Linked DNA regions of Homo sapiens. The protein of the gene in region 2 purifies or fractionates together with the protein of the main gene of each other region. This does not show direct contact. Each region holds a gene or a part of one and is shown on either strand. Other genes may lie near its edges. The genes, in order: POLE, SMC1A, CTCF, NEK10, RFC1, WFDC5 and PPIE.

Region 1 (3,500 bases), on a different chromosome or scaffold from region 2:
CTTCATCCTAAAATTTCCAGTTTTCTGGAGAGAATATTCTTCAGTGCTGGAGAGTGAATCTGACTCAAAGATATGTTTGCTGCTTTTCCCCCAAATACTTTATTAAAGGAAATATGGAGTTAGAATTTTTCATCAGTTTCTGACAGTATCATTTCCTTTTTTGTTGTATATCACTGTATGACATCAGTGTTTGAGCTAGGCAGGATTTGGACACTCGAGGGAAAGCTGGGACTTCCGTTTGGGTAGTTGATAGTGAAGGGACATGGTGAAAAATGGATTTGTAACTAGAAGGCCTTGGTTCAAACATGACTTTGTGGTGTTGGGAAAGTCTTTGTATTCAGTTTTCTCTTTTCCGAAATGAAGATATCATCTCTGTGCCACAGTTACCTTTCAGAGTTGTCATAACCACCAGAATGAGGTGATGTCTTTTGAAGAGTTTTTCTCCTAAAGTTCTGTGATTTTAGGCTTGTCCTGTGATCAGCTGCTCTCTTAGGTATGTCAGTTTTCATACCATAGGGAGTCGTGATACTCTTGATGTAGGTTGGTTAGTCTTAGGGTCCTTCTCCCAGCTCTAGAGCCTTTTGACTCTTTTAACAACCAGAGGGAGGTAGAGCAGGCTGGGGGTGGGTGTTCAGGGAGGCCTAATGGGGAGTTTAGAGCTTGGCTTTATGCTTATTTTGTCCCCACAGGACCCTGTGGTTTTGGCATTTGACATTGAGACGACCAAACTGCCCCTCAAGTTTCCTGATGCTGAGACAGACCAGATTATGATGATTTCCTACATGATCGATGGCCAGGTGAGCAGGTGGCTTCTGGGAAGTAAGCTCCTGGGATGGGGACCTTGTCTGGTCCCCATACTACAGCAGCATCTGCCCCACTGTTAGTATTTGTTGAGTGAATAATGAGTTAGTCCAGGAATGGGAGCAACCAAGCCGTTCCGACCTCCAGCTGTACCCTCCCCTTTCGAGTGGGAATCCACACACAGAGCGTCTCTTCTCAGGAAGCTTAAAGCACTTTCACATTGCTGTGGACTTCTTTGTAGTGAGAATCTCTAGGCAGAGTGTGTGGGCAGGGTGGGAACGCCATTTCTTGGCTTTGCAGCCTCTGACTTGTGCTGATTGCTAATGAACTTGGCTAGGGCTACCTCATCACCAACAGGGAGATTGTTTCAGAAGATATTGAAGATTTTGAGTTCACCCCCAAGCCAGAATATGAAGGCCCCTTTTGTGTCTTCAATGAACCCGATGAGGTAAGGAGGTATCACTTGGGAAACTACCCGGTATTGTGGGAAGAACGGACATGTGGATCTTTCCAAGGCCTCAGGCATTCCGTCAGATCAGAATTGCAGCTCCATGAGCTTTGTTCTCAGGGTATGACCGTCTTTTCTGCCAGAGACGGGCGGAGGGGCGGGGCAGGAATAAGGGCCAACATGAGGCTGCTGCTTCTGAACTTTGGGAGAGGAATTTGGAATAGCTTGAAGAAGAGAAAGAGCAGACCTCTGACTGCTGTGACTTGGGTTCAGGCTCATCTGATCCAAAGGTGGTTTGAACACGTCCAGGAGACCAAACCCACCATCATGGTCACCTACAACGGGGACTTTTTTGACTGGTGAGTCTGTGTCTTCTCTATGAGTAACTGGGCAGCATTTGAGAGGGAGGGCGTTGCGTGGTGCAGGGGCGCTTCCCATGTCGACTTAGGAGGTGGCTCCTGGGTTCACTCTGCACCTCCCGTGTCTGGGTTCCTCCCTGGGTCTGAGGGAGGAATGGAGAAAGGGGCATTAGAGCCTGACCTGCCCACTTGCTTGTCTGTCCTCTTTCCAACCCAGGCCATTTGTGGAGGCCCGGGCAGCAGTCCACGGTCTGAGCATGCAGCAGGAGATAGGCTTCCAGAAGGACAGCCAGGGGGAGTACAAGGCGCCCCAGTGCATCCACATGGACTGCCTCAGGTAGGGGCCACAGAGCAGCATGGCTCCTCACTGCTGTCCGTGAGCGAGATCTGAAGGCCTCTTGCAGACTGTGCTGTCACCACATCTCATGGGAGGAGGGTGGCCTCCGAGAGGCCGTTTCAGGTCACCCAAGAGTATGGCAGCTGCAACCCTGCCAGGGCCCGGGATGTGCTGTCTTTGACTGTTGACTGACAATTCATCAGTGACCAGGCACATTGAGCATCAGCCTCTGGGGTGGGGAAGCCGCTGGAAAGACGCACTCAGCTGACAGGTCCCAGACCTAGGACCTCATGGAGCTGCTCTGCCCAGGCAAGGTTGGGATGTGGCAGCCCGGCTGCCTCACAGGACAAGCCTCACGGGACAACCACAGATTCCATATGAGCTAGGGTGGGAGGCAGCTCAGAGCTTCGGAGAGTCACGGCGTTCGGGGGCTCTGACATGACTGGTTGGGAAGACAGGTGGATGTGGAAATGCCAACAGAAGGAGGCTGGAAGGGAAGGAAGGGAAGGGAGGGAGGAAAGGAGGGAAGGGAAGGAAGGGAAGGGAGGGAGGGAAGGAAGGGAAGGGAGGGAGGGAAGGAAGGGAATGGAGGGGCCTCCACGGCCTCTGTATTCTGCACAGTGCCACTGGGGTGCTTGCAGCCTGAATGCGTTTCTGTTTAGCTCTGATGCTCAGCACTTGGCTTGGAGAGGGAGGCCAGGAGGCTGGGGCCGGTTTAGCGTGTGACGGTGTGACAGTCCTGATCCAAGGCAGGGAGTGAGGGTTGTGAGGATTCAGGATCTGTCATGTGGGGCAGGGGGAGGCCCAGGGATGCTGGTTCTTAGGGAGGGGTTGGCACCTGGGGTTTTTGTGCCATCCGTGGAGACAGGGAATGGGTAGAGAAGGGGCTTGAGGCAGGAGGTGACCCTGCTACCGATATGCTAGCCTGGAAGCCCCACCCATATGGGGGCCCTGAAGACCACCATGAGGCTTGGTTTGGGCTCGCACTGTAGATTGGGACTCACTGGGTTGCGGGTGGGTCTTGGTGAAAGCTGGGGTAGTGGATGAACTGAAGGCAAGAGGTAAAGTGAGAGAAGAAGGCCACAGGGTGGAGGCTGCGGGGGGTGGAGACCGGACATGACCCCTGGACAGCTGCTCCAGGGAATGCGTCTGTAGGGAGGAGGTAGAGACAGGTTCCGGGTAGAGTGTGGGGGGCCTTCTTTTCTTAATTTTTATTTTTTATTTATTTTTTAAATTTTTATTCTTCTTGGCATCTGATCACATCTTGCCTTCTATTAAAGGAGGGTGGGCTTGAGTGTTTCCGTGCTGAAGGGACAGTGTGAGGAGAGAAGATCAGTGTGGTTGATAGAACTAGGCCCCAGGGGTGCAGACCTGAGGTCTGGGGAGAGGCCCAAGGAGGTGGGGCGCCCGTCGGAGAGGCCACAAACTCTGCTGAGGATGGGAGGAAGGCGAGGGCCGGAAGGACCAGTCCTGGTGCTTCCTTGTGTTGTGGATAGGTCTGTGAGATTAACTAGATCCTGATGAAGGGTTTTCACAAGGTGTCTACACCATGTGG
Region 2 (3,500 bases):
ACGGGGTTTCACCACGTTGTTCAGGCTGGTCTCAAACTCCTGACCCCGTGATCTGCCCACCTGGGCCTCCCAAAGTGCTGCGATTACAGGTGTGAGCCACCGCGCCTGGCCTATTTTTTTTTTTTTTGGAGTCAGGGTCTTGCTCTGTCACCAAGGCTGGCATACAGTGGCACAATCATGGCTCACTGCAGCCTCAACTTCTCGGGCTCAAGCAACCCTCCCATCTCAGCCTTCCCAGTAGTCAGGACAACTGGAGTGTGCCACCATGCCGAGCCAATTTTTGTATTTTTTGTAGAGATGGGATTTTGCCATGTTGTCCAGGCTGGTCTCAAACTCCCGAGGTCAAGTGATCCACCCACGTCTGCTTCCCAGAGTGCTGGGATTACAGGCGTGAGATGCCGTGTCCAACCTAATCATAGTCTTATACCGTCTCTATGGAAGGACTTGGGCTGCTGTTTTTATGGCTGAGTAGAAAGGTGTTGGAAATCAGATCTTCAGTTCAAAGTCATATATAAGTTCTTTAGGGACAGTCTTGAGATAGAAATTATAGAGACTAAACTGTTCCTCCTTATCCACCAGCCCGACTAAACTTTTTTTTTTTTTTTTTTTTTTTTGAGACAGAGTCTCTCTCTGTCGCCCAGGTTGGAGTGCAGTGGCGCGATCTCAGCTCACTGTAACCTCCACCTCCTGGGTTTAAGCGATTCTCGTGCCTCAGCCTCCCGAGTAGCTGGGATTATAGGCACACAACCGTGCCTGGCTAATTTTTGTATTTTTAGTAGGGACGGGGTTTCACCATGTTGGCCAGGCTGGTCTCAAACTCCTGACCTCAGGTGATCCGCCTGCCTCGGCCTTTCAAAGTGCTGGGATTACAGTCATGAGCCACTGCACCCGGCCTAAACTTTTAAAACAATATCTATTTTTTGGCCAGGAACGGTGGCTCATGCCTGTAACCCCAGCACTTTGGGAGTCCAAGGTGGAGGATCTCTGGAGCTCAGGAGTTTGAGACCAGCCTAGGCAACATAGGGAGACCCTGCTTCTGCAAAAATCCAAAAACTAGCTGGGCATGGTGGCTTATGCCCATGCTTCCCGCTACTTGGGAGGCTGAGACAGGAGGATCACTTGAGCCAAGGAGGTCAAGGCTGCAGAGAGCTGTGATACTGCTACTGCACTCCAGCCTGGGTGACAGAGTCAGACCCTGTCTCAATAAATAAATGAATAAGGTCTGGGCGTGGTAGCTTATGCCTGTAATCCCAGCACTTTAGGAGACCGAGGTGGGTGGATCACTTGAGGTCAGGAATTCGAGACCAGCCTGGCTAACATGATGAAACCCCATCTCTACTAAAAATACAAAAATTAACTAGGTGTGGTGGCACACGCTTGTCGTCCCAGCTATTCAGGAGACTGAGGCAGGAGAATCACTTGAACTTGGTAGGTGCAATCTAGCGTGGGCGATAGAGCGAGACTCCATCTCAAAAAATAAATAAAATAAGTAAATGAAACCTTTTTTGTTTTCGGATTCTAAAATGAACAAAGTAAAAGCTGTAACTCCACTACTGAAAAGATAGCCACTGTTAATGTTGAAAACCTTATTTATTTGAATAGCTGGTACATGTACATGGTATACAATTTTAAAAATCCTTAAGGATATACAGTAGTAAAAAGAAGACTCCCTTGACCCTAGCTGCTTAGTTTCCTTTTCAGAGGCAATCACTGCTGCACTGTTTACGTTTTCATATATTTGTTTCCTATGCCTTCTCTTCTCCCAAGTTTTATTATGAAAATTTGCAAGCATATATGTGCATTACTTAGTCATTTGGAAGTAAATTACAGACTCAATTACATTTCACCCCTAAGTGCTTCAGCATTCACCTCTTAAAATCATCATTCTCCTGTACTACCACTATTCAGTTATCACAACTAAGAAAATTTCCTCATGTCATCAATTATCCAGTTTATATTTAAGCTTCCTTAACTTGCTCCCCAAATGTCTTTTTGTTATTTTGGAACCAGAGTCCAGTCAAAGTTTGTGCACTGTTTACCTATGTCTCAGAAATCTCTCATGTTTTGGAATGGTTCGCTCACTTTTTTTTTTTTTTTTTTTTTGAGATGGAGTTTTGCTCTTGTTGCCCAGGCTGGAGTGCAATGGCGTGATCTTGGCTCACCGCAACCTTTGCCTCCCAGGTTCAAGCGAGTCTCCTGCCTCAGCCTCCTGAGTAGCTGGGATTACAGGCATGTGCCACCATGCCCAGCTAATTTTGTATTTTTAGTAGAGACGAGGTTTCTCCATGTTAGTCAGGCTGGTCTGGAACTCCCCAACCTCAGGTGATCCGCCCGCCTCGGCCACCCAAAGTGCTGGGATAACAGGCGTGAGCCACCGTGCCCGGCTCACCCTTTCTTTTTAGACACTGACTTTTTGAAAAGACCAGGCCATTTGTCTTTGAGAACATCCCACATTCTGTGTTTGTGTTAAGATTTCCTCATGAAAACCTTACTATGTTCCTCTATATTGTATTGCTGTATTTCCTAGGAACTGGAAGATAAGTCTGAAGGCTTGTTTAGATTCAGATTAGGCTGGATATGGTGGCTCATGCCTGTAATCCCAGCACTTTGGGAGGCCACGGCGGGAGGATCACTTGAGGCCAGGAGTTCAAGACTAGCCTGGGCAACACAGCGAGACCTTGTCTTTATTATAACAAAAAATTAAAAAAAGGAAAAAAATAGATTCAGGTTAAATATTTTTGGTAAGATACATCATAAATGATGCTGTGTGTTTCATATTGTTTCACAACAGGAATATGCACTTTTTTTAGATGGTGGTAAAATACACATAAAATTTCCTAAATTAACCATTTTTAAGTGTGCAGTTCAGTAGTGTTAAATATATTCACGTTTTTGTGCAAACGATCTCTAGAACTTTTTCATCTTGCAAAAATGAAAATCTATGCCCATTAAAAAACAACTCCCAGGCCAGGCGTGGTGGCTCATGCCTGTAATCCCAGCACTTTGGGAGGCCGAGGTGGGCGAATCACAAGGTCAGAAGATCGAGACCATCCTGGCCAACATGGTGAAACCCTGTCTCTACTAAAAATACAGAAAGTTAGCTGGGTGTGGTGATGTGTGCCTGTAATCCCAGCTATTCGGGAGGCTGAGGTGGGAGAATCCCTTGAACCAGGGAGTCGGAGGTTGTGGTGAGCTGAGATCACGCCACTGCACTCCAGCCTGGCAACAGAGCAAGACTCCATCTCAAAAGAAAAAAAAACCTCCCATTTTCCCCTCCTCCCAGCCTATTTTTAAATTTTACTTTACATTATTATTATTATTATTATTTTATTTTATTTTATTTTTTTTTTTTGAGATGGAGTCTTACTCTGTTGCCCAGGCTGGAGTGCAGTGGCACGATCTTGGCTCACTGCAGCCTCCACCTCCCAGGTTCAAGCGATTCTCCTGCCTCAGCCTTCCAAGTAGCTGGGATTACAGGCGCCCGCCACCACGCCCAGCTA
Region 3 (3,500 bases), on a different chromosome or scaffold from region 2:
AGAACAGACAAAAGCCGCAGGGACGAAGTTGGGGTCGTGATAGCGCTTGAAGTGCATGTCGAGAAGCTGCTTCTGGCGGAAGGTCTTATCGCAGTGGCTGCAGGCGTAAGGCTTCTCCCCGGTGTGGGTGCGCTTGTGCATGATCATGTGCCTCTCCTGAAACGGCATAGGGGGAAAGGCCTCAGAGCCTGCTCATGGGGCTACTGCCCCAGCTGCCACCTGCATGCATGTGGCCAACAGGTATTTCTCACCCAAGCTAGGTCTAGACTCCACACGGCTTGTTGAGATGATAAAGCTATATATTTAGAGACAGGGTCTTGCTCTGTTGCAAAGTCTGGAGAGCAGTGGTGTGATCATGGCTTACTGCAGCTTCAAAATGGGACCATAGGTATGAGCCACCATGCCTGGCTAATTTTTTTTGTTTTTTTTTTGAGACGGAGTCTCGCTCTATCGCCCAGGATGGAGTGCAGTGGCGCGATCTTGGCTCGCTGCAACCTCCACCTCCCGGATTCAAGCAATTCTCCTGCCTCAGCCTCTTGAGTAGCTGCGATTACAGGTGCCTGCCACCACACCCAGCTGACTTTTTTTTTTTTTTTTTTTTTTGAGATGGAGTCTCACTCTGTCGCCCAGGCTGGAGTGCAGTGGCGCAATCTCGGCTCACTGGGTTCATGCCATTCACCTGCCTCAGCCTCCGGAGTAGCTGGGACTACAGGCACCCACCACCACGCCCAGCTGATTTTTTGTACAGACGGGGTTTCACTGTGTTAGCTAGGATGGTCTTGATCTCCTGACCTTGTGATCCACCTGCCTCGGCCTCCCAAAGTGCTGGGATTACAGGCGTGAGCCACCGCGCCCGGCCGACCTTCGTGTTTTTTTGTTTTTTTTTTTTAGTAGAGATGGGATTTCACCAGGTTGGCCAGGCTGGTCTTGAACTCCCAACCTCAAATGATCTGCCTGCCTTGGCTTCCCAAAGTGCTGGGATTACAGGTGTGAGTCACCGTGCCTGGCCCCAGCTAATTTTTTCTTTTTCTTTTGGAGACAGAGTCTCGCTCTGCCACCCAGGCTGGAGCGCAGTGGCGCAATCGCGGCTCAATGCAACCTCCGCCCCAGGTTCAAGCGATTCTCCTGCCTCAGCTTCCAGAGTAGCTGGGATTACAGGCGTCTATCACCATGCCCGGCTAATTTTTGTATTTTTAGTAGAGGCGGGGTTTCACCGTGTTGGCCAGGCTGCTCTCAAGCTCCTGACCTCAAGTGATCCGCCCACCTCAGCCTCCCAAAGTGCTGGGATTACAGGCGCTCGAGCCACCGCGCCCGGCCCTAATTTTTTCTTTTTGTAGAGATGGGGTCTCTCTCTGTTGCCTATCTCGGCCTCCCAAAGTGCTAGGATTACAGGTGTGAGCCACTGCACCCGGCTTGATAAAGGTATTTTTAGTGTGGTGCACAACTGCTTCCATAATTGTAGCACAGATAGAGCTGCTTATTCCTGCTGAGCTCCTTCTTTGGCTCCCTCCCAACAGTCATGTCCCCGCATGAGATTCTTCCCCTCTCTCAAGTCCTGGACTTACTTTCCACAGTTTTCAGAAAGATGTCTGCTTAAGGAAGAGGTAAGCTGTGACTGAATAAAACATCATCTGGACACCGGGATGACACAATTGACAAGGAGCATGACCTTTGATTTTGGTGACATTCCTCATAATCCACAGTTTGAAAATACTATCTTTAAAAACAGCCACTGTACTAGATATGTAAATGCCCTCTGATAACACCAGACACCGAGAAAGCACCAACAACTTTCAATGAAGGTTCCTACCTGTCTACAAGCGTAATCACACTGGTCACACTTAAAGCGCTTCTCATTCTTGTGTGACTTCTGATGCTGGATGAGGGCATAGCGCTCATGAAACACAGCATCACAGTAACGGCATTTCTTGCCTTGCTCAATATAGGAATGCTGCTTTCGCAAGTGGACACCTGAAAGCACAGTAAAAAGCCCAGGGTAATGTGAAAACACAAACAAGCATTTTAACAAGTTACTAATACATTTCTCGATTCTTTTTTTTTTTTTTTTTTTTTGAGACGGAGTCTTGCTCTGTCACCCAGGCTGGAGTGCAGTGGCGCAATCTCAGCTCACTGCAAGCTCCACTTCCCAGGTTCATGCCATTCTCCCGCCTCAGCCTCCTGAGTAGCTGGGACTACAGGCGCCCGCCACCATGCCCGGCTAATTTTTTTATTTTTTATTTTTGTATTTTTAGTAGAGACAGGGTTTCATCATGTTAGCCAGGATGGTCTCAATCTCCTGACCTCGTGATCTGCCCGCCTCGGCCTCCCAAAATGCTGGAATTATAGGTGTGAGCCACTGCGCCCAGCCCATTTCTCCTGATTCTTAAGTATTACTCTGGGTGCTATACAGAAAATGAATGAAAAGGCAGAGTAACAGGTGCAGGGAGAACAATTAAGATTGTTCAAACAGGATAGGTGGGAGAAGATGGTGGCTGGGACAAGGGTGATGACAATGGGTGTGGATGGAAGGGGAAGAACTGATGAGAGATGGAAGCAGTTGAATCAACAGGATTTAGTGACTGTAGAGAGTGAAGAATAAAGTAGGTATCAGGCCTGGAAAACCAGGTAGCTGTTGGGGTCATTTATTGAGACAAGAATAGTGGAAGAGGGCTTAAGACCAAGTTGTATGTGTTATTTTCAGGGTCGGGGGGTGGGGGGGCATAGGGGACAGAGAAGTTTTAGACCTTCAGTTTTAGACATGCTGAATTTGAAATGCCAGAGATATAAAAGCAGGGGTGGGATGGCAAGGGATACACAGTTATATAAGGCTAACTCAAAAGAAAGATCTGGAGTAGGAATATAAATGTACAAGTTGTTAGGATTTGAAAGCAGCTATGCTTATCACTGTACCACCAATGCCACAAAGAGTTGTTAGAATTTGAGCCCATGGGAGCTGATAAGATCACCAAGGCAAAAAGTAGAATTAAAATAAAAAGAATGGGTCATGCTTTGAGAAGTCTAAGAGTTGGCAGGCACAGTGGCTCACGCCTGTAATCCTAGCACTTTGGGAGGCCATGGCAGGTGGATCACCTGAGGTGACGAGTTCAAGACCAGCCTGGCCAACATGGCAAAACTCTGTCTCTACTAAAAAGTACAAAAATTAGCTGGGCGTGGTGGTGTATGCCTGTAAACCTGTAATCCCAGCTACTCGGGAGGCTGAGGCAAGAAAATGGCTTGAACCTGGGGGGCAGAGGTTGCAGTGAGCCAAGATTGTGCTACTGCACTGTACTCTAGCCTGGGCGACAAAGACTCCATCTCAAAAAGAATCCCAGCACTTTAGGAGGCAAAGGTGGGTGGATCACCTGAGGTCAGGAGTTTGAGACCTGGCCTGGCCAACATATAGTGAAACCCGTCTCTACTGAAAAATACAAAAATTAGCTAGGCATGGTGGCGTACACCTGTGGTCCCAGCTACTCGGGAAAATGAGGAAGGAGAATCAT
Region 4 (3,500 bases), on a different chromosome or scaffold from region 2:
ACCGTCAATAGAAATTACCATCTCCACAACTACTCTCCTCCCACCATCCCTGGAGAGATTTTTGAATTTTCATTTTCTATTCAAGGGCTGAGTATATGCATTAGGAAAAGAAAATGGTAACAGGAACAGAAAGAGCAGCAAGGACCTCTGACCAAGTTTGGATATTTCTCATTTCTGGGCTTCCGGGAAAAAGGGAGCTAGGACTGAGTTGGAAGGAAGAAAGCTGTGTAAAGAAAGTTAAAGAAGGTCATAAAGGCTTGGCCAGCCTCGTAGCTCTTCCCAAAGCAGGCTCTATTTTTGATCATTTGCATGGTTGTATGATAAATTACATTTTACATACATAAGCATACTATCATGGATAGTATGAATGTTTCTGTTTTTAACTGTGAGCCTCATTATTTCAAGTGCCCTTGGCTTGTACTGGGGAAAAGATGACTCTTGTCATTTTATCTGCATTTTCTCAGAGACTTGGGATCATGGGCAAGGAATGTCTTCATATTTTTTGCAGAAAATCATTTAAATATCAAGAAAAACTAAGTGTGCAAGGAACTTAAGGAAGCTCTTACAAGAACTTTTATTTTCCCTTTATTAAAAAATATTTGTCTTATTTTGGAATTTATCATTATTCTTTTTCAATTCTACTTTCATTAGGTTTTAAACCGATCTAGTTCCAAAGACATATGGCTTTATTAAAAGACATTGCAAATTTTCTTATTATGATAAACAGATAATAAGATGCCTTATAACAAAGGCAAAAAATTATTCAGTTATATTTGTAATTGTGAATCTATTATGAAGGTATGATGAAACAGTCAAGTTTAAGCAATATAAGTTGGGTATTGCATTAAATTTTCTTAAAGTGCTCCAAATTAAAATGAATCACATTTAAAAATCCATATATCCATGGTATTCCCTTTTTGGCTTCTTTTTTTTTTTTTTTTTTTTTTTGAGATGGAATCTCGTTATGTTGCTCAGGCCAGGCTGAAGTGCAATGGTGCGATCTTGGCTCACTACAAACTCCACCTCCTGGGTTCAAGCGATTCTCCTGCCTCAGCCTCCCGAGTTGCTGGGATTATAGGCGCCCACCACCACACCTGGCTAATTTTTGTATTTTTAGTAGAAACGGGGTTTCTTCATGTTGGCCAGGCTGATCTTGACCTGGCCTCAGGTGATCCACCTGCCTTGGCCTCCCAAAGTGCTGGGATTACAGGCATGATCCACCACACCCGACCCCCTTTTGGCTTCTAATAGCAATGATAGAACATATCTTGGGAGAAAAACTCTCCAGAATTTGTTTGTAAAAATAACCCTTGTTTGTGCCTAAAGCCACTCTTTGTTTACTAGTATTCCAAAATAATTTCCAAGAAATAAGTCAGGCTTCAATTAGAAGCACCTACTAATCCACAAACTGTGAATAACACATAACTCCAAGTACAAATCAGATTAGCTGGTACTGTCATGCTTTTTTCCACAAAGGATGGAGGGTGCTAAATGTCACAGCATATGTAGAGGTATTTAGAATCAGTATTTAGAATTAGTAGACTGCATTTTTCCCCAATAGGTTTCATAGAATGGGCAATATTATCAAAGATGTCAATAGATAGTCTCTGAAAAATAAAGTTTCATGGCCACATATATTTGGGAAACTCAGAATGTACAATTTTTTATATTTGGAGAATGTTGACACCTATTACTATATTAAAGACTCTGAGATGTACTATAAGAAAGAAATCTGTTGACCTTGTTTGTTGACCTCAGTGTTTTCCTCACTCTTTACATGGAATACAATTGAGGAAAGCTGTTTTAGCTATGTGGTTGGAAATGAGGAACACCGTTTTCACTCCTTCACCAGGGTCTACCCAGATCTCTGTTGTTCTCATTGACATGGTCATCATTGTCATCATCGTCATTGCAAAATTTGTTCTTAAATGAATTAAGCACCGTGCTGAGAAAGTTACATATATAATTTCGGTGTTATTCAAGTTTACAATTTAAGACTATCAGTTTGAATAGTACACACATCATCTAGCCAGCCAGTCACTAAAGGATTAATTCAAGATAAGGTACATTTTTGGTTTAAATTATAGGGTTTATATTTAGTTAAGGAAGAGAATAGAGAGGTGCCATTTTCAGACTGAAAGTCTCAGGATAAAGCCATTATCTATCTGTTAGCTATCTTTGAGGAAGATTTCTGGAACTGTTTAAATCATGAGGAGACTGCTTGGACAGTTAGGAAGAATGTCTCAGGCATAAAATGCTGCATTAGGAAAAGAAAATGGTAACAGGAACAGAAAGAGCAGCAAGGACCTCTGACCAAGGTTGGGTATTTCTCATTTCTGGGCTTCTGGGAAAAAGGGAGCTAGGACTGAGTTGGAAGGAAGAAAGCTGTGTAAAGAAAGTTAAAGAAGGTCAAAAAGGCTTGGCCAGCCTCATAGCTCTTCCCAAAGCAGGCTCTATTTTTGATCATTTGCATGGTTGTATGATAAATTACGTTTTATATACATAAGCATTTAGCTTGCTTACCAGAAGGATGCAACTTAATATGCCTTAATTTTATCATTGTTGTTTGTGAGGATAAAATCATTTGAGTCATGAATAAACAGATAATGAGCATATAATCTTTATGAATATACTTATGTATTACATTAATATTTTATTTTTAATAATAAAATGTGTTGAGAAATAACAGTATACAAGATAACAAATCTACATTGAATCAACTTGAATTGTTTTATTTCCCCAATTGACTGATAAGCGTGTAAATTAGTTATTTTAACCTACACAGGTATTCAAGTATACAAGCTATTTTGAATGAATATTTGTTTTTCTACTACAAAGTGTTATCAGTTCCTATTGAGTTCATAATTTGAGAAAGGCCTTGTTAGCACCAGACTTCAGCCAAAGGCAGCTTTTTAAAAATGTCCCCATCCTAACAAAAATAATCGTCTTTTTATTTACTGTGATTTATTTACTTATATGCCTGAGCCCCAGTTTTTGAAATTGAATGTATGAACTAAAATATTTGTAACTATAGAGAATTCTTTCCACTTCTGAATCTTATAGGTATCATTCCTATCCATGGGGGACCAAGAATCACCCAACCAAAAGATGAAAATGCTGCATTTTGAGTGGACTTGATTTTCTCAGTGAAGTTCAAGTTCTGGACTTCAGCCGCTATTGCAAGATGCCCAAGGATTGGGTGCTGCTAGAGGGTGTGGAAAAGACCAAGATGCCATGGGGCCTGCAGGACTTCTTTCTGGGGGTCCTGTGCTGGAGTATATGACAGCTGCGGTACTTGAGGGCTTCATTGCCAGAACACATTATATACAGGATGTCAGAGCTACCAGTGTGCTGCTGGGAGAAAATGCTGCAAAATTCATCTTTTGGAGGGTGGGGGGAAAACCCAAAAACAACAACAAAAAAACTCTCTTACAGAATTTTCCTTAACATTAAAAAAAACTTGTCATATTTTTCAAAGGCACATTTGATACTCAGAATTG
Region 5 (3,203 bases), on a different chromosome or scaffold from region 2:
ACCCTTGGTTTAGGTGCACTAAATGGCATCTTTGACTTTTCTATGAGTCTATTAGAAGATGATGATACTGTAAAACATTGTAGAACAGTTTTGGAAATGGTTTCATGATTTCTGGGGGTACTGTGGCTTAGGGACTCACACTGCTTCCTTTAAGTACTAGCGTGCTTAATTATGGAAGACAATCTAGAGGAAATGGATGAAATTAAACTAGGAGAGTTTTAAAAACTCTTTGTCTAGGTAATAGTTGCGAGGGTGAGTCTAGATTTCTGATCAGGAAAAAAGCTGTGGCTTCTTATGGTTCACACATTCAGTTCCTTGAAGGCAGGAGCAGGACCCATAGACAATTTGTAAAGAATCATTTCTTTTTGCTTCTGATGCTGGTTCTGATAACAACAACTTTTGAAGTTTTACGTATACAGGCTGGGTGCGGTGGCTCACGTCTGTAATCCCACCACTTTGGGAGGCCAAGGCGGGTGGATCACCTGTTAGGAGTTTGAGACCAGCCTGGGCAAGATGGTGAAACCCTGTCTCTACTAAAAATACAAAAAAAAAAATTAGCCGGGTGTGGTGGCGGGTGCCTGTAATCCCAGCTACTTGGGAGGCTAAGTCAGGAGAACCTCCTGAACCCGGGAGGTGGAGGTTGCAGTGAGCCAAGACTGCACCACTGCACACCAGCCTGGGCAACAAGAGTGAGGCTTCGTCTTTAAATAAATAAATAAATAAATAAATAAATAAATAAATAAATAATGTATACATATAAATGCCTGGTTTGAAGATAGAGGCAGCTGGGTTGGAAAGATTTAGGATGGTGGCATTTGAAATATTGTTTTGTTCAGTTGCTTTCTGTCTTTAAGAAGTGACAACATTTAAGAGAGAAAGAAAGAGTCATTTTATGATAACATTCGAGTTCTCAGCAGACCAGAGACTGTTTCCCTAAACCTTCCTCTGGCCACTGTGGATCACTTTTTGATTTTGTGGGAACACTCTGTAATTTTCTTAGATTTGGAGAAAAGCCGGCTCTAGAACTGACGATTTCAGAGTAACAGTATTAGGAAATGTGAGGGAAGCATTCATATATGATTTTGTGTGTTATAATCAGGGACCAAAAGGTGTTATACACATTCACACACTTGAGATAGGGAATTTCATTGCCTTATACTGATGCTTTTAATATTTTGGAACTTGGAACGAGTCATATTTATGAACACAAAGAAACATTCTGTTGCCTGGGCCTTAAGAGTAGGGTGGAAGTAGAATCCACGTATGTTTTTCAGTCACTGATGTAGGTAAGTAGAAAATTTCCTTTGGGCACATTGATGTGTACCCATTACCCTCATGCTGTGGTGCTGGGCTTTCTAAACTACACCAGCTGGCTGTCAAATAGTAGGCATTCCATTCAGCATTATTGAAATTGGATTGAACTCTGCCTGATTAACTCAGTGCTGTTATGCACAGTATGACTTGAGTTGATACTTTGCTGTTGACTATGTCTCTTTTGTTGTGGTTTCAGAACTTACTCCAGCAAAAGGACTGTAAACATGGATTATCTGTCGCTTCTAAGGGATGCACTTGTACAGCCCTTGACCTCACAAGGAGTAGACGGAGTACAGGATGTTGTTGCACTTATGGACACATATTATTTGATGAAAGAAGACTTTGAGAATATCATGGAAATCAGCAGCTGGGGTGGCAAACCTAGTCCCTTTTCAAAGCTGGATCCCAAGGTAAATCATGTCACTCACTGGTTCTTCGTCACTTTCTATTACCAGGTTTGTACTGACAATACTTCGGAGGTGTTTTAGATGCTTTAAGATTTACTTCTTTTTCCCCTCAAATGCTTGTTGCTTCTTATGGCCTATATTTTCCAAAGATACTATTTGAATGCAGTATTAAGAGTAGACTTCTGGGCTTGACTTTACAATTTGTATTTTTATCTTTGCTTTATGCTCAGTGGAAAAGCAAGAAGTGAAATTTGAGGAGCAAATATAAATATATTCTTTATAAAGGATGAGTGGATGAGTCTAGGGAATTAAAAGTTGAGCGGTGAGCTCTGGTGGTAATGGGTTGTAAAAATAAAATATGTTTATTGGCTGAGGATTTGTACAAATTTTCTTTTTCTTAGTCTACCTAATCTGTGGATTCAGTATTTATTCCAGTTGGATAATCTTCTCTGTAATAATGTATCCCCACTTTTCTTATAATGAGACGAAAAAAACTAAAGTGATACATCATGAATATGTAACATCCAATACCCAACTCTTGCACCTGTGTAATGAATGCGTTTTAGAAGACATATTCTCTGTAGTTTGCCCTCCCCAGAATTTTGACCCGACTTTATGGTTATCAGTAAATTCTCACAGCAGACATCCATTGTTAGAATTCATGGACTAATTCAGGAATTATGTTTAGAAGCTTGAAGGTAAGACTTTCAAGTTACTTAGTATTTTGAAGTAACTACTCTTATTATGGAAAAGGTATCTAGTGTTTTGTGGAAATTAAAGGCCAACTTATATCTTGTGATGAGCTCCCCCAACCTTTTTTTTTTTTTTTGAGACAGTCTAGCTCTGTTGCCCAGGCTGAAGGGCAGTGGTGCGATCTCGGCTCACTGCAACCTCTGCCTCCCGGGTTCAAGCCATTCTCATGCCTCAGCCTCCCAAGTAGCTGGGATTACAGGTGCACTCCATCACGCCTGGCTAAGTTTTGTATTTTTAGTAGAAATGGGGTTTCCCTATGTTGGCCAGGCTGGTCTCAAACTCCTGGCCTCATGTGAACTGCCTGCTTTGGCCTCCCAAAGTGCTGGGATTACAGGCGTGAGCCACCACACCCAGCCGAGCCCCTTTTTGATTTACTGATTCACTGATTAACTTTGCTTACTACTTTGTAGAAATGTGGAGAATGCTGAATAGGTAAACATGATGACTTGAAGTGACCTTTTGTTTGTTTGTTTGCCTAAAGTTCCCAAATATATATATACGTATTTTTTTTTTTTTTAGACAGAATCTCACTCTGTTACCCAGCCTGGAGTGCAGTGGCGCAATCTCAGCTCACTGCAACCTCCACCTCCTGGGTTCAAGATTCTCATGGAGAAGCATGAGCCACTGTGCCCCACCTTCAGTCTTTTTTGTCATGGGCTCTATTAAGAATGTTATGAAAAATATGGAACTTATCCACAGAAAAATGCACGTACTTAGATTTACATGTAT
Region 6 (3,212 bases), on a different chromosome or scaffold from region 2:
CCCCCACCACCCCAAACCCACACTTTTTCCCCCTCCCCACGCCAAGCCTCTCTTTCTCCAGCAGGGGGCAGCAATTTAATTTAAACCAACCCGATGTGACAGCTGAAGTTGACTTAGCGCACGTAGGATGTGAGCAAGGTGCCTACTTATGTGTGCAGCCAGCACCCAGGCAGGGGGCTGAGGGGGAGGGGCGGACACAGAGGTAAAGTCACAGAACCAGATCCAGCTGCCCCTCGGAACTCTTGAACATTTTCTCTGATGCTGGATTGAATTGAAGACCTGGGACCTGCTCCATCCCTACAGCTCAAAGACAGCTCAGGGTGGACACTCACAGAGGTCAGAGGGAGCCGGGCCCTGGGAGTCCTAAGCCCAGCCCATGTGGGTCTGGACAAGTCACTGCCCTTTTCAGGCCTTGATTTCCTCCTCTACATGGAGGAGGATACTGATTTCCAGCTTTGTGCATGAAATATGAACATGGCCCAAAATCCCAGCAAGAAGAATGTTAGGTAAGCTCTGGGACAGGACACTCTATACCATTCAGAGGAACGCCTCAGAGACAGAGTTAACGCCTGATCCTCGAAACCATGCCATTTGCAACAGTGATGAACGCAACGGTGCAGAAGACGTGGCCAGCTGTGGCTGTGACAGTGCACCAGGCTGGCCACTGCTGACGCACGTGCAATGCTGGGCCTCACTTCAAAACCCTTTCTTTCCAAGTCACTGAGCCCTACTGCTGTGCGCCAAGGGCTGTGATATGGACCAACGGTGAGCAAAGCTGGCAGGGTGTCTACTCTCCTCACCTCCAGCCAAGTGAGAGACACAGACAAACAGATGCAGCATCACAAACTCTGGAGGAAAGAAATGAGTGTGTGTGTGGGGGCCGGGGTGGGGGGGCGCTGACCTAGTTAATGTGGGGTCAGAGAAGTAGGGTCTTCTGAGGATGCGATGTTTCTGCTGAGTCCTAATGAGCTGACCAGGCGCATGGAGTACAGGAGAAGTGCACTAGGCAAAGGATGCGGCCCGAGCAAGAGCCCTGCAGAGAGAGCTGGCTTGGAGCAGATCAGGAGGCACTGAGTGGGAGGGCAGTAGAGGATGGGGCTAGAGAGATGGGCAGGGCCCAGACCAGGCATGGCCTTATTGGCCACAGTGGAGATGTTGGGCTTCATTTTCCCCTGTCATTTGTGCCATCTGAGTCTCAAACTAGCCCAGCTTCCCATTTCACAGCCAGAAAACTGAGGCTTGGAGTCATTATAAACAAACAAACAAACAAAAATAACAACTAGCCAAAAGACAGGCAAAAAGCAAGGGATGGAGAATTCAGTCTTGTCATTCCCAGGTCAGCGCTTATTACATAACCGTGAGCTTCCTCCAGCTGCAATATTAGGAGATTCTCTTACAGAGAAATCGGGGGGCTGCCCGCCAGATGATGGGCCCTGCCTCCTATCGGTGCCTGACCAGTGCGTGGAAGACAGCCAGTGTCCCTTGACCAGGAAGTGCTGCTACAGAGCTTGCTTCCGCCAGTGTGTCCCCAGGGTCTCTGGTAAATGCCTCCCCTCCACCTTGCTGACCATCCAAGCCCCAAGCTTCAGGGCCAGTGGGCAAGGACGGAGCTCACCCAGTTCCCTGTGTTGCAGTGAAGCTGGGCAGCTGCCCAGAGGACCAACTGCGCTGCCTCAGCCCCATGAACCACCTGTGTCACAAGGACTCAGACTGCTCGGGCAAAAAGCGATGCTGCCACAGCGCCTGCGGGCGGGATTGCCGGGATCCTGCCAGAGGTACGGCTCCTGGGTGCCCAGGGCAGGTGCCTCCCCTCTCCGAGCCCAGCTCTAATACTTTCTTCATTGCTACAAGCTTAACAGGATGCCTCCCCAGAAGTCAGGACCTCCCATGGCCAGGATTAGGAAACTGGATAGGGGTTGGAGGAGTCCTGCTAGGATGACAGAGGACCCGGGAGTCCTTGGTTCTCTTCTTGAGCTTGCTGTGGCACCTGGATGACAGCCCTAAACTGCTCTGGGCTTCTGTTTGCCCTTTTGAAGGGGGCAGAGGAATCCTGCCTTGGTGGCAACCAGAGCTGAGCTGGTGGGGCATGGATGGGAGACCAAGGCCAGAAACCAGAGCCCTATTATGGGAAGGAATTAACCCTTTCTTTCTCCCTCCTCAGGCTAATTCTGATTTAGGATCTGTGGCTCTGCACCTAAGCTGGGGACCAACGGAAAGAGTTCACGATGGGAGGCCTGGGGCCCTGCCCGCTGGACAGCACTATCTCTACCAGCGGTGGTTCCAGCCTTCTGATAATCACTGGCCTGCTGACACTTCCCTGCAACCCATCCACCCCTGGTTTCTCCTCCTGGGAGTCAAAGTCCATAGCCTGAGCTCGGAGGAAGGCCTCTGTATCACCCCAGTACTCTGCACCACTGCCATACGAGCTTCCCACCCTTCCTAACGCTTTCACACCAATCCGTACATGCTGCTTCCTCCACCAAAAATGCCCAATTCAGGCAGACCCTGACCTCTCCCTCAGGCAGCCCAACCATCCAGAATGAATATTCTTGCAGAGTTTTCCAAACATCAGTCATTCACCTCTTTCATGATTTTCACCATACCTACAAAATAGCACCATGATAGGTTGCACGCTGCCTGTACCACCATTTACTTAATGTTTTCTTTAAATGGCTCACTTTTGTATATAAATAAATTCATTTCAAAAGAAAATTGATATCACTACTATAAATGAGATCAATTACCACAAATGGAATTATGAAAACAAATGCAATGGAAACAGCTCAGTTCCATTAAAGTAAATCATGTCAGATTAAATGATATTAAATAGTGTTATTAAACTCTAGCTAGCTACAGCCACCTGCCAAGACTGAGCCTGAAGCCTGTACTCACTCTATGTTTTTGGTTTTTTGTTTTTTGAGACAGAGTCTCATCCTGTTGCCCAGGCTGGAGTGCAGTGGCACGATCTTGGTTCACTGCAACCTCCGTCTCCCGGGTTCAAGCGATTCTTCTGCCTCAGCCTCCCAAGTAGTTGAGACTATAGGTGCCCACCACCATGCCTGGCTAATTTTTGTATTTTTAGTAGAGACAGGTTTTCACCATGTTGGCCAGGCTGGTCTCAAGCTACTGGCCTCAAGTGATCCACCTGCCTCAGCCTCCCAAAGTGCTGGGATTACATATGTGAGCCACCGTGCACGGCCAGTCTATGTTTT
Region 7 (3,500 bases), on a different chromosome or scaffold from region 2:
AAACCACCCTGTGTGACCTTTGGCAGTCACGCCAATAAAGCCTCAGTTTACCTGTGCAGGGTTCCAGTGTGCATTCAATAACATCTGTGAACACCCAGGAGGAACACTGGGAGAGGAGTCCACACCCAATGGCTCCAAACCTGCTGAGCTTTCAGAACTGCCCACTGGCCTCCACCTCCCCAGAGTATCAGGGAGGAACAGAGTGACAAGGTTGTCACAGGAGTCTGTCCTTTTATGGGAGGCTGGCTGTGCTTTTTCTACACACTCTCTCCTGGTTCTCGTCCAAGCACTGAAGTCAGTGCTATCATCCCCAGCTTCATAGATGCCTGCCTAACACCTGTGACTGACCTCTGATGGCCATTATTTGCACTCAGAGAAGGGGCTGTGCTTTGAGGGAGGGTCTCTTTTGGAAGCTCCATAGGGGTGAGGGGTAACCATGTAGTATATCCCAGCTACATGGAGCCTGAACTCAGTCAACTGTAGCAGCTGGAGCTCACAAAGTCCAGTCGGCACATGGGAGCCAGAGGTAGGGCAGAATGCCACCATCCCTCAGCAAGAGCTATCCTAGGGTCATGAGGACCACCTAGCCTCTCCTGCCTCCTGGCTCATCCAGATCTCAATCCAAGATGCAAAAGCTCAGCTCAGTGGATTCTGAATGGTCTGAGTGACCCAACCCACAGGAGGTGTCCAACAGCTACAGGACTCAGTCCCTGCTAAAAGCCTTCAGCAGATGAGATTCTTTATAACCGCCTGGCTGACCAGCATCTGGAGGGGGAGTGGAGAGAAGCCAGCTCCAAGAAGTGGCTGCACACAGGAGAGCCAGACTGTGAGCTCAGCAGGGGGTGGGACCATTTGTTCTCTTCAGTGGCTGGCAATCCTGTTTTGTAAAGGCTCAGATAGTAAGTATTTTAGGCCTTGGGACTGTGATGGTCTATTTTGTGTGTCAATTTGGCTAGGCCATGGTATCCAGTTTTTAGTCAAACACTAGTCTAGATGTTGCTGTGATGATGGTTTCTTTTTTTCAAGACAGGGTCTCCCTCTTGTCACCCAGGCTGGAGTACAGTGGCATGACCATGGCTGACTGCAGCCTCAACCTCCCAGGTTCAAGCGATCCTCCCACCTCAGCCTTCTGAGTAGCTGGGACTATAGGTGTGCACTACCATACCTGGCTTTTTTTTCTCCCCCTAGAGATGGGGGTCTCTACATTGCCCAGGCTGGTCTTGAACTCCTGGGCTCAAGTGATCCTCCTGCCTCAGCCTCCCAATAGTGGTGGAATTATAGGCATGAGCCACCATGCCTGGCCTATTTTTTAGATGGATTAATATTTAAGTCAGTAGAGAGTAAAGCAGATTACCCTCCATAATGTGGGTAGGCCTCATCCAATCAGTTGAAATTCTTAAGAGAAAAAAGACTGAGATCACTGGAGGAAGAATTCTGCTTCCAAACTGCCTCAGAGCTGAACTGCAACATCAGTTTTTTTCCTGAGTCTCCAGCCTGCTGGTCTGTTGTGCAGATTGCAGACTTGCCAGCTCCTACCACTGCTTGAGCCAGTTCCTTAAAATAAATCTCTTTCTACATATATACACACCCTATTGGTTCTGCTTCTCTAGAAAACCCTAATACAGGGACCATAGCCTGTATTGTGTCTATAGCCCCTTACGCACCTCTGCCACTGCAGTAAGAAACCACCATGGACAATATGTAAATAAATGGACGTGGCTGTGTTCCAATAAAACCTGATTCATAAAAACAGGCAGTGGGCTGGATTAGGCACATGTAGTTTGTTGGCTTCCTGTCTCCTGACAAATAGGCATAGTACTTGGCACAGAGAAGGCACTTTGAGTTATAAAAATTTCATTTTTTAAAATCTGTAGGGTGAAAGTGAACAAATAAACAAATGAACCACTGAGAGTACACTTGCTGGCTGTAAGGCCGGCAGCTGGGTTTAGGAGCAGAGGCAGCAGAAGACCGGAGCTTTCCAGTCTTTAATTTCCGTTGCCCTGACATCGATGCCTGGTGTGAAGATACATCACCTGACATCTAAGGGGATCGGCCCAAGGGAGGAAATGAAAGCTGTGAAAAAGATGCTCTGCTCTCCCCACTCACCAGCCTGCCTCAGAGGTCCAGCTTAGCCACAGACACAATCTCTGACAACTCCCAAGAACTAGCAGGAAGAGCAATATAAGAACTAGGGTTTATTTTAGCAAAGAAAACACGTAAGAGCCACACTGGTAGTCCCAGGAGAGGCCCAGCAGCAAATGCTGAGAAAAGCCAGTGGCTTTTTGCACAGCCTGCCCATGGTGGAGGGGAGCACCTGAGCTGGCTCCTGGGCCCACAGCTGTGCCTGGGAATAGTCCAGGCTGTGCCTGCAGAGGAGCTGCTCCAAGCAGACCCTGAGGAAGGGCACATATCCCAAATGCTGCTTGCTTCAAACAGGCACCCTCGGTGCTGCCTCCTCTGAGGCTGGCAGTTCCTTCCTGGATATGCAGGGTCAAGAGCGGAGGGGGAAGCAGAGAGAGTGCCGCCTCACACGTACTCCCCACAGTCGGCGATGATCACCTTCTGCTTTGGCTTCCCGTCCTTGCTGCCCTGGGCCTTTGTGGCAGAATAGAAGTGAGGGAGTAAGGCCGGAGACTAACAGTGGTTTAGGGATACCAACCCCTGCCTGCCCATTTGCCCACTTCCACCCCGGAACCTGGGCAGCAGCAGCCCCTCCCGCTGGACACAGCCCCTGGCCATCTCTCTCAGGCCACAGAGACTCTCCAGCCCTCACACAGGGCTGTGCTCCTAGGGCCTGGGTAAGGAGGAGGCCCATTCCTGGCCACATACCTCAATTTGCCGCAAGACATCTAGGCCTTCGGTGACCTCTCCAAACACCACATGCTTGCCATCCAGCCAGTCTGTCTTGTCACATGTCAGGAAGAACTGAGAGCCATTGGTGTTTGGGCCAGAGTTGGCCATGGATAGTAGACCTGAGGGAGAGAACAACCATCAGCTCCCCGAACCCTGGCTACCAGCCCTTAAAGGACGTCTGTGCAGGCTGTTGACAGCCCTTCAGCCAGTCAGGCTCAGACTCGGGGATGCACAGATCACATGCAAATGCGGCCACCTTATCTTGGATTCAGTTAATAGTCAGTGAAATGGTAAGTGAGGTGTTTCAATCACTTTATACTGGTCTGTTCTTTCATTAATTCATTTATTTAACAATTAAGTGTCTACTTGACAACCAGGTCCCTGTTAAGCCCTGGGAACACTGATGAGCAGAACATAGTCCAAGCTCTGGTGGAGCTCACAATCAGTGGAAAAGAGCCATTCAAAATGACAGCTATGACACAGTGAGGCCTGGTAACATGGACATTTGTCACGTAAGAGAATGTACATGTATATGTGTGTGTCTGTGTGTGTATGTGTACATGTATGTATGTGTGTGTGTGTCCACAATGACTCCTAAGTTTCTGATCAAGCGGCTAAGTGGATGGTGGAGTCATTTATTGAAACAG

Evidence for each region.
Region 1: the proteins of SMC1A (region 2) and POLE fractionate together in Homo sapiens (co-fractionation; one large-scale study listed by BioGRID). This does not show direct contact.
Region 3: the proteins of SMC1A (region 2) and CTCF purify together in Homo sapiens (affinity purification with western blotting; 2 studies listed by BioGRID and IntAct, with this or other methods). This does not show direct contact.
Region 4: the proteins of SMC1A (region 2) and NEK10 purify together in Homo sapiens (co-immunoprecipitation; one large-scale study listed by IntAct). This does not show direct contact.
Region 5: the proteins of SMC1A (region 2) and RFC1 purify together in Homo sapiens (affinity purification with western blotting; 2 studies listed by BioGRID and IntAct, with this or other methods). This does not show direct contact.
Region 6: the proteins of SMC1A (region 2) and WFDC5 purify together in Homo sapiens (affinity purification with western blotting; one study listed by BioGRID). This does not show direct contact.
Region 7: the proteins of SMC1A (region 2) and PPIE purify together in Homo sapiens (affinity purification with mass spectrometry, with the first as the bait; one large-scale study listed by BioGRID). This does not show direct contact.

The regions. Positions count from the first base shown.
Region 1 is NC_000012.12:132,673,843-132,677,342, reverse strand, and holds part of POLE (DNA polymerase epsilon catalytic subunit A), read left to right. Parts: intron 1-689; coding exon 690-797; intron 798-1,138; coding exon 1,139-1,249; intron 1,250-1,522; coding exon 1,523-1,608; intron 1,609-1,825; coding exon 1,826-1,945; intron 1,946-3,500. UniProt on the Homo sapiens protein: Catalytic component of the DNA polymerase epsilon complex. Participates in chromosomal DNA replication.
Region 2 is NC_000023.11:53,416,155-53,419,654, reverse strand, and holds part of SMC1A (structural maintenance of chromosomes protein 1A), read left to right. Parts: intron 1-3,500. UniProt on the Homo sapiens protein: Involved in chromosome cohesion during cell cycle and in DNA repair. Central component of cohesin complex. The cohesin complex is required for the cohesion of sister chromatids after DNA replication.
Region 3 is NC_000016.10:67,625,026-67,628,525, reverse strand, and holds part of CTCF (transcriptional repressor CTCF), read right to left. Parts: intron 1,972-3,500; coding exon 1,811-1,971; intron 157-1,810; coding exon 1-156.
Region 4 is NC_000003.12:27,110,884-27,114,383, reverse strand, and holds part of NEK10 (serine/threonine-protein kinase Nek10), read left to right. Parts: intron 1-85; coding exon of another isoform or gene 86-104; exon of another isoform or gene 105-158; intron 159-3,063; coding exon 3,064-3,112; 3' UTR 3,113-3,500. UniProt on the Homo sapiens protein: Plays a role in the cellular response to UV irradiation. Mediates G2/M cell cycle arrest, MEK autoactivation and ERK1/2-signaling pathway activation in response to UV irradiation.
Region 5 is NC_000004.12:39,290,160-39,293,362, reverse strand, and holds part of RFC1 (replication factor C subunit 1), read left to right. Parts: intron 1-1,510; coding exon 1,511-1,724; intron 1,725-3,203. UniProt on the Homo sapiens protein: Subunit of the replication factor C (RFC) complex which acts during elongation of primed DNA templates by DNA polymerases delta and epsilon, and is necessary for ATP-dependent loading of proliferating cell nuclear antigen (PCNA) onto primed DNA.
Region 6 is NC_000020.11:45,108,963-45,112,174, reverse strand, and holds the end of WFDC5 (WAP four-disulfide core domain protein 5 precursor), read left to right. Parts: exon of another isoform or gene 1-1,308; coding exon of another isoform or gene 1,309-1,399; coding exon 1,400-1,540; intron 1,541-1,634; coding exon 1,635-1,775; intron 1,776-2,161; coding exon 2,162-2,166; 3' UTR 2,167-2,712; downstream 2,713-3,212.
Region 7 is NC_000001.11:39,752,382-39,755,881, reverse strand, and holds part of PPIE (peptidyl-prolyl cis-trans isomerase E), read right to left. Parts: intron 2,973-3,500; coding exon 2,830-2,972; intron 2,596-2,829; coding exon 2,527-2,595; 3' UTR 1-2,526. UniProt on the Homo sapiens protein: Involved in pre-mRNA splicing as component of the spliceosome. Combines RNA-binding and PPIase activities.